Linked DNA regions of Homo sapiens: regions 1 and 3 are each linked to region 2. Evidence: fine-mapped expression QTL. A gene starts in region 2. Each other region holds a variant in brackets. All regions are shown on one strand. Distances are from middle to middle.

Region 1 (2,759 bases), 410 kb after region 2:
CTGACCTCAGGTGATTCACCTGCCTTGGCCTCTCAAAGTGCTAGGATTACAGGTGTGAGCCACCGCGCCCGGCCAGCATGTATTATTTTTATAATTACAAAAACAAACAGATATTTTCCAGAAGATAGGAAAGACTAGTGCTAACACCAATCAGGATAGCAAATGCTTATTCAAACTTTGTCTCTTTTTTTTTTGCCATTAGCTCCAGCAGCTGTTTATCTGATATATGTTTAATGGCAATAATAAAAAGATCTTTTTTCCTCTTCTTTCTAATGCCAAAGGCAGTCTTGTCCTTCTAAAACCTAAAGTTCTGCCTATTCCGGAACACAGTCTAGATCCAAAAGGTTTATATTGACTGTTCAGACTAAGGTAGACCTGAAGCGGGCAGCAACAGCAGTGGGATTGTGATGATAATCACATGTCAAATTTCTCTTCCTCTCCCCTCTCCTTGCTTACAAGCCCCATCCCTTGGCACCGTTCACGTGCACAAGAACCTTCTGTGGCCGGGCGCGGTGGCTCACACCTGTAATCCCAGCACTATGGGAGGCTGAGGCCAGTGGATCATGAGGTCAGGAGATCCAGACCATCCTGGCTAATACGGTGAAACCCCGTCTCTACTAAAAATACAGAAAAAAAAAAAAAAAAAAAAAAAAAAAAAAAAAAAAAAGCCGGGCGTTGTGGCGGGCGCCTGTAGTCCCAGCTACTCGGGAGGCTGAGGCAGGAGAATGGCGTGAACCCGGGAGGCGGAGCTTGCAGTGAGCCGAGATCGCGCCACTACACTCCAGCCTGGGCGACAGAGCGAGATCTGTCTCAAAAAAAAACAAAAACAAAACCTTCTGCCTTCTGCATGATGATTTTGTCCATCTTTTCTTCTCCCTTTAAATGCTATTTAGCCAAATGTTTGTCTTTTGTCACTGCTTTCTACCACCTGACACATTTTATTTTATTATTTAAGAGCCATTTGCTTACTGTCAGAAATTACTTTTCTAGTTACCAGCACTTGCTTTAAATGTATGTGATGTTAGTTTAAGCTGTAACTCTGGGAGGCCACCTGCTTCTCTGCCATCCTGCCAGGTGCTGGGTCTGGGTGTGTAGGTGCGGGTGTTAAACCTGTCCCCCAAAGAAAACCACAGCAGGTCTTTTATCCCTTTTAAAGCCCACCACAGTGGGCTTGTTCATCCTGTGTGAATGTAAACTTCAGAGAACTTGGTTCGTGGAATTCAGGAAGAAATAACACTTGCTAGAAACCCCTGACAATGAACTCTTCACAAGACCCCTTCAATTAAGCTGTCTGCAGGTTTTAAAAAGTGTTTCAAGGTTCTAACTACTTTCTTTCACTTGAGGTATTGAGAGATACCTATGAAAGGCCTTATGATCAAGGTCAAGAAGGATGGTGTTATTCTAGTTATTTCATATTTCAGGCGTACTTAAACCAAATGTATACTTTTGAAAGTCTTTCTTATTTTTTACCAAGCACAATCTTGATGTGGTTTCTATTGATTCCTGTTCCACTGTGGATTAGGTAAGAAAGAGCCACTTTTCTTTCATGGACACATTTGACTTTGAGGGGGTTTGTGGTCGGAAAAATATCAAAGTCTGTG[A/G]TTACTTCATGCTTTACCCAGTCTTAGGGTGAGTGTGGCTGGCGTTTGGTTTCAAGGCGTTGCTGGATGTTAAATGAGGACTTGTGAAAGCTCTCAGGTCTGAATGGGGATTCAAGAGCCCCCAGTCTGGGGGTGTTGGTGAGTGACAGGATGAGAGAACTGCTATTCTCAAAACTGCAGTGTCTGTTCAGAGTAGTAAAGGAAGCAGTTGGCAAATTCGGGGAAGAGAGCTTGTTTAGCACTGTGTTTCAGATTTTAATAGAGAGGGGTTTCTTAGAATATTTTTACAGGACACAGAGGTTATGAGCAATAAGGAAGGGAAATAAAAAACCAAGTAGTTTTCTTGCATGGCTGTTTGGCTAGAATTTCATAAAATGAATGTTATCTGCAAGAAGACTAAAAACAGGGTGATTCATTACAGAAACTGTGTCCTTAACATGCTAATCAAGTAGTTACATATGGGAATAAAACAGTCAGTTAAGCTGGTCTTGAAGCCTGACTGATTTGAGACCTGGAAATGCTCTTGGCTGATTGACTGGTGTGAGCAATCATAATAGTAATAGGTAACATTTAATGAATGCTTTGCTAAGCCTTGAGTTACATCATCACATTTAATGCTCACAGCAGTCTATGAAACAGATACTACTTATGTCTCCATTTTACAGAGAGGGCATATGAGTGACAAGGTAAATAAGTTAACTGGGATCACAGAGCTAGTAAGCAGTTGAGCCGTAGTTTGAACTGAGGCACTGCACCTTAGTTACTCAACTAGATCCACGTTGCTGACTGGCCAGATCCACTTCCTTGCTCCCCATGTCCAACAAACCAGCTGAAGAAATCTACAGAGCTTTGTTAATATTCCTCCTGTTTCTGGAGGCAGCCATTAAGGAGGAGTAGGTCCCAGCTCCAGAACGGGTTTTCCCGTAACACGGTCATGACTCTCTTGAGTTATGTTTCAGCTTCTGGGCAGTAGCCTAGATGGGGGTCTATCTACTCGTTCTGGAAACAACCATAGCTGGGCTATTTTTTCCTTTATTTATGGGTCATGAGCACTGCCAGCAAATTTCTCTGAGGGGTGCATTTAAATATGCCACATTTGTATTACTGTATGTGTATGCTGGGTGAAACATTTATGATAAATCAAGGTTTTAGGTGCCC
Region 2 (2,740 bases):
AAGTTTCTTGATTATAACTGACAGGCAGCGGAATATCAGTTTTAGGGAATCAAAAGTTGAGTTGGAAGGCTGCTGGTTTGGAAACTAAGGTTGGTTCCAAGTGGTCCGACCTGATTCCCAGGATCTTTGTGAGAGCTGCTGGGAGAACTGAAAATTAACAGCGAGGACACAGGACGCCCTAGGTAACGTCCTCCCCGCTATTCTGCTCTTCTCAATTCAAGGGCCGAGACAACTTGCTTTTGTGGAAAAGGGAAGTAAAGGGAAAAGAGGAAAGCAAGGAAGTTCAGTCAGAAAGAGGAAGAGGGACAAAGAGGAAAGAAAGGGACAAAGAGGAAAGAAAGGGACAAAGAGGAAAGAAAGAGGGACAAAGAGGAAAGGCAAGGAGAAGAGAAGGAAAAATCAAGGTTCAGCAAGAAGTTGGAAGGCGAGGGAAAAAGGGGAGTAAAGAGAAGGCAAAAGAGGTCTAAGGGCTAGGAAGATGCAAGGATCTTTTTTTAACGAACCAAAGTCACATCCATCTTTCACTTTCAAATCAATCGTCTAGATCTTATCCGTTTCCTTTTTAAAGGTTATCTGCGTCTGTAAAGGAAGCCAGTAGTTGATACTCCTCTCCGCGCCCCACGCGTGGCCGCGCTGTTCTATCTCCGGCCACTGAGATCAAATACAACGCGAGTGAGAACATTTGCAGAGGCGCGACTCTGGGAACACTCCTGCGACTGGCTGTCACCCGGGAGTCTAACCGGATTAATACTCAGAGATGGATTACGCTGGTTGTCACCAATACGCCTAAAGATTATAATCCAATTTACGCACATTACAGTCAGTATTAACTTTATCTGCTATTTTAAGACTCCCGGTTGCCCCGCGCGTCCTCAGAGGACAATCCTCCACGTTCTGATGCAACTCAGTAGGCTGTCAGGAGGGGAAGCCCCCCGAAGAAAACAACTCCAAGCCTGGTCCCCGAGGGTCTGTACCCGGCACTCCCAGGTGTCTTGCTTTCACCTGGGCACCGCTTTATGAAGCTTCCCAGCCGGGGATTACCAAAGCGGAAGGCGTTCCCTTGCAAGGAAATAGCATCCTTGTTTCTCCCTTGTTCATTTCATTTTCAAATTTTCGGTGGCGGTGGCAGAAGGGCGGGGAGTGAGGGTGGCGGGCGGGTGCCTGTGAGTGGATGGGGCAGGGGGCCAGGGGATCGTTGCGGGTTAGAACAGCCTCAGTCATTGCTATTTTCATGCTCGTTTTTTGCAGGATGGCATTTCTCTCGCTCTCTTTAAGTAAGTTTGTTTGGGTGTGAGTTCTTGTCTTTTCAGCACAAAACCACAGAAATACGTGGTGGAAAGTAAAAGAAAGCCCACTCCCTCCTCCCCGTGCGTACTAGCTAAGGACTTGATTTAACACCCCCTCTCCGGCTGCTGAGGGCTCTAAGCAGTGGCTACATTCCAGCAGTTTTAATCCGTTTTTTATTGTAGGGCGAGCAGAGTTTACACAGGGGCTGGGATGGCTCCCCAGCTGGCCGCTCTCCCCACTCCTGCGTCCCCTCCCTGCCACCCCCCCAGCAGGAACCTGTTACTTTAAGCGAGGCTTTCCAGTGTGGCGCTGCGGGCCGCCGGGGTTTCGGGAGGTGGCAGGTGATTGGCTCTTTCGAGCTCCCCCTGGCTCGCTCGCTCTGCCTCCCCGCGCGCTCCGCCCCGCCCGCAAGCCCTCCCTCCGCCCTGTGAGGCTCGGAGCCCGGGTGTCAGGCGCCACGGCGCATGCTCCGCAATCATCTTCTTTACCCTGGAGCTGCTGCTGCTGCTGCTGCTTTTGCTTTTGGGGCTGAGTTTAATAAGCGAGCGAGCGAGCAAGCGAGCGCGGGGGGAAAAAGGCAGAGAATGTCCGCCATCTACCCTCCGCTCCTGGGCGCGCTCTCATTCATAGCAGCCTCTTCATGAATTACAGCTGAGGGGGGGCGGAGGAGGGGGGGGTACCACACAACACCCCAGCAAACCTCCGGGCCCCCAGGCATGGCTAGCTCGGTAAGTACGCGCAAAAATAATAATAAAAGCCCTCCCCCACTTTCCTTCCTCGCCCTGCGCCGCCGCAGCCCAGACAGCGCCAGCGCTCCGCGGTTCCAATTAGAGAAAGGTTGGTACGGCTTGCAGGGAGCTGCCGCCTCTCCCTCAGCCTCCGCTCCCCTCCTCCCCCACCCCCCCCCGGCGCGCACACAGACACACAGACACACACACACTCACACACGCTCACACTCGCCCCTCCACCCCCCGCGCCTCCCTCCCTCCTCGCCTCTTTGCAGTCACAAGAAGCGCACTCACACACTCCCTCTCGCTCACACGCGCGCACTCACACACACACACACACACGGTGGAAGGAGGCGAATAATAACTCAGCCATATTTCAGCCGCCGCCGCCGGGAGCTGCGGGCACAGTCCGGGGACGCGGCGAGCAGCCTCGGCGGCCGCACCTCCGCAAAGCGCCGCGGCCGCTACGATGGTGCGTTCTCCGCGGCGCGCGTGTGTGAGCCGAAGTGTGCGGGGCTGACAGCGGCGGGGCCGCACGCAACTTTGCCCCAGCGCCGGGAGGTGCTGAGCGCGAGCCGAGGCTCGGCGGCTGTCCGCCCGCCGCCCTGCCTTTCTGAATTTCATTTTTTGGGGGGAGGTGGGAGATACTTTGGAGCCACTTGGGCTCTTGAAAGTGTGTTGCGGGGGCTCGGTTCGACTGGCCTCGCCGATCGCGTGGGGCTTTT
Region 3 (2,759 bases), 300 kb after region 2:
AGATAAAGCTGCCTGCTGGCCTTTCACTCCCAAATTGCCTGAAACCTGGTCACGTCCCAGCCAATGTCCTCTGCCTTTTGATGAGCTCCACTGTGAGGGGAGAACTAGAAACTGTGAGGAGTGGGTAGACTTTTTCCTACTGCGCAGTGAGATGGGAATTTGGTTACATTAAAAAATACATCTGTATTCCTTTTATCATGCAGATGAAGTAAAAAGGAGTATATAAAATAAATTTATAGTTTTGCATTTAAAAGAGACACAGACAGAGAGAGAAAGAGACATCTTTGGCCTTTGTTATTTGTTTGACATCTGCAGTCCTGCTGGACCACTAGCTTGGTGAGGGCAGCTGGCAGGCAAGCCTGTGTGCTGTTGTAGCCAAGCCCCTAGCACAGCTCATAGTAGGGGCTCAGTAAATGTTGAATTAATAATTAATCTCCATATCAAATTTCCTCTTTGTCCGCAGTCATGAAATTCATACGTGTCTTAAGTTTCAAAGCACTGAGTGAATATAGCTTGCCCTAAAGCAAACAAACAAAAATAGCATTGCTTGGAAAGATCTCGTTTAGCACCTTAGTTACCACAAGTGCTCATTAGGGCTTTCTTTTTCTCTTGAAGGTGTACATTTGGCTGAGCGTGTGTAAGTGGGTTATGTGACTAGCCAAATGCCTTCTCTCTTCTGTACTTGAAGCCCTGCTCTCCCAAGCTGAAGAGTAGATGACTACAGGGAAAATGTGACTCATAGCAAGTGTTGTTATTAAATCACCTTGAAGTGTCTCTTGTAAAAGATAACTCCCTGCATTGTAGAAATGTCTTTGACAAGAGAGGATTAGGGTGAAACTGCAATTACCTTGACATAAAGGAATGAATTAACTTTCCAACTTGCATTTTTGCAAGGCATAGATTCAAGCTGCTTGGAATATAAACATTGAACACATTCACAATAGCTTGGGGCACTTGAAAATTCTAAAGATGGGCAAGGAGCCCCAAGATGCTAGGCAACTTCAGAGGTATTTCTCACCACAGAGGGAGTGCCTG[T/C]CTGGACAGAAACCGCCAGTGCAGTTGTGCAGTGTCTGCTCATGTGTCAGCAGGGTTTAGGGGACCGTCAGGACGAATGCCTCCTGGAGCTGATGCCTGCAGGGTCTGCCCGGAGGAAACAGAGAAATGCTCTTCCAAGATTTGACTTCCAAAACTACCCATTCACTCGACTCAGGAAATATTGACCGAGCACTTACTATGCGTTGGGGCGTTGGGCCGTGAGTTCAGGCAGTCTTGGCTGTCAGGGACTTGGAAAAGTCACACGTTAAACAAATCGTGTGGGCATGAACCTCAGTCAACAATTCATGTGCAAAAATACACACTTTTGTTTGTTTTCTTTAAGTCAAAGCTGACTCTAAGCTCTCATCCTGCCAGGGCAGCAGGAAATTCCAACTCCTAGTTTTGCACCAGAAGCCCAGGGCCTTCACGAGGATTCTGAAAACACAGGAAGGGCCTCTGGTTTCTGGTCCATCATAGCTGCTGCCAACATCTCTATTTTACCTCAGTCTCCAGATGGGCAAGCAGGCCAAGATGTGAGGCAGCTCAGTGTGTTCTGCTGTGTCAGTGTGACCTGTGGGTATATGAATGTCCACCTGAGCTGGAAAGTCCATGACAAGGCCCTGGCGTCCTCAGGTGCACGCCTTGGCCATCTCTCTGAGGAATATTCACAGCTCCCTAGGCACACTTCTGTCGGAGACACAGGCAGGCTCTAACCAGGGAGGGGAGGGGGTGGTCTGCAGAATAGGGCCTGAGCCACCCTTGGATGATAGGGGAGTAGGTACTCTTGTCCAACTTCTAATAGGAGACTGGGCACTTAATTGTCCAATTTCTTTCCTCTATCATCTGTCATATTCTTAACAGCAGCCATGTCAACATATGACTTAAAATTGTTAAAAAGCCCAGCATGTTGGGAGGCCAAGGTGGGAGGATCTCTGGAGGCCAGGAGTTTGAGGCTGTAGTGAGCCATGATTGTGTCCCTGTATTCCAGTCTGGGTGACAGAGGAAGACACCAACTCAAAACAAAAAATTGTTTAAAAGGCTGAATTTTTAGTAAATGTATTCAGGGGAAAAGTATTCCACTAACACTTGGTTACATTTCAGTCTGGTCTCTGCTAAGCTCAGCATCTGTCTACCGTCATCCACCTTGAGAATTTCTCTCCTCTCTTCCTGTCATCGAAGGAAGGGCTCTCACCCTTTGCTTTGCCTGCAAAGGACTGGGTGTTTTACATGAAGAACAATGTCTTCCTTCAGCTTCCACTTTCTCTCTGGAAAAATCCCTGCAGCAAAGGAATGCAAAGCCAGGCACCTGGTAGAAATGAAGAAATGGAACCACAGAACACCCATGAATGAATGGTTCAGCAGACTGTCCCACCAGGCCCCAAATCACAAAGCGCATGAGGATAATGAAAGAGGAATTGCCTGCAGCCAAGGGGCACATGGTGGGCTGGTCTGAGGGGCCAGAGAAGGCCTCCTGGAAAACGTGTTGACTAGGATAAGGTCTCGAGGATGAAAAAGAAGTTCACCAGGGAAGCAGGGTTAGGATGTTTACAGGGCCAGGTCACAGAGGGAGAGGGGCAGTCAGAGAGGGAGCAGGTATGGCCTGAGATCTGAGCAAAAGCCCAAAGGGCAAGAGAGGAAATATCGATGGTGACCCAGTGGTTGTTGAGTCTGTCCTTGTCCACTGGGTCCCTTACAGGAGGGCTTTCCCTCATGTGGTTTGTTTG

The links. PIP is the estimated chance that this variant, and not a neighbour inherited with it, causes the effect.
Region 1: its variant is fine-mapped to the expression of MLLT3 in whole blood (INTERVAL, PIP above 0.99).
Region 3: its variant is fine-mapped to the expression of MLLT3 in breast (GTEx, PIP 0.96).

The regions. Positions count from the first base shown.
Region 1 is chr9:20,208,546-20,211,304 of GRCh38, reverse strand. It overlaps a transcript of SLC24A2 not described here. Among named protein-coding and RNA genes, the nearest start is that of MIR4473, 200 kb to the left of the region's middle. The variant A/G (reference allele first, on the strand shown) is at 1,602.
Region 2 is chr9:20,621,520-20,624,259 of GRCh38, reverse strand. It overlaps MLLT3 (MLLT3 super elongation complex subunit), which reads left to right and starts at 1,761. Exons shown (of 11, transcript NM_004529.4): 1 at 1,761-2,015. The coding sequence starts at 2,004. RefSeq lists silencers at 1,163-1,302, 1,323-1,782, 2,203-2,352, 2,423-2,472.
Region 3 is chr9:20,318,054-20,320,812 of GRCh38, reverse strand. No RefSeq gene overlaps it. Among named protein-coding and RNA genes, the nearest start is that of MIR4473, 92 kb to the left of the region's middle. The variant T/C (reference allele first, on the strand shown) is at 1,036.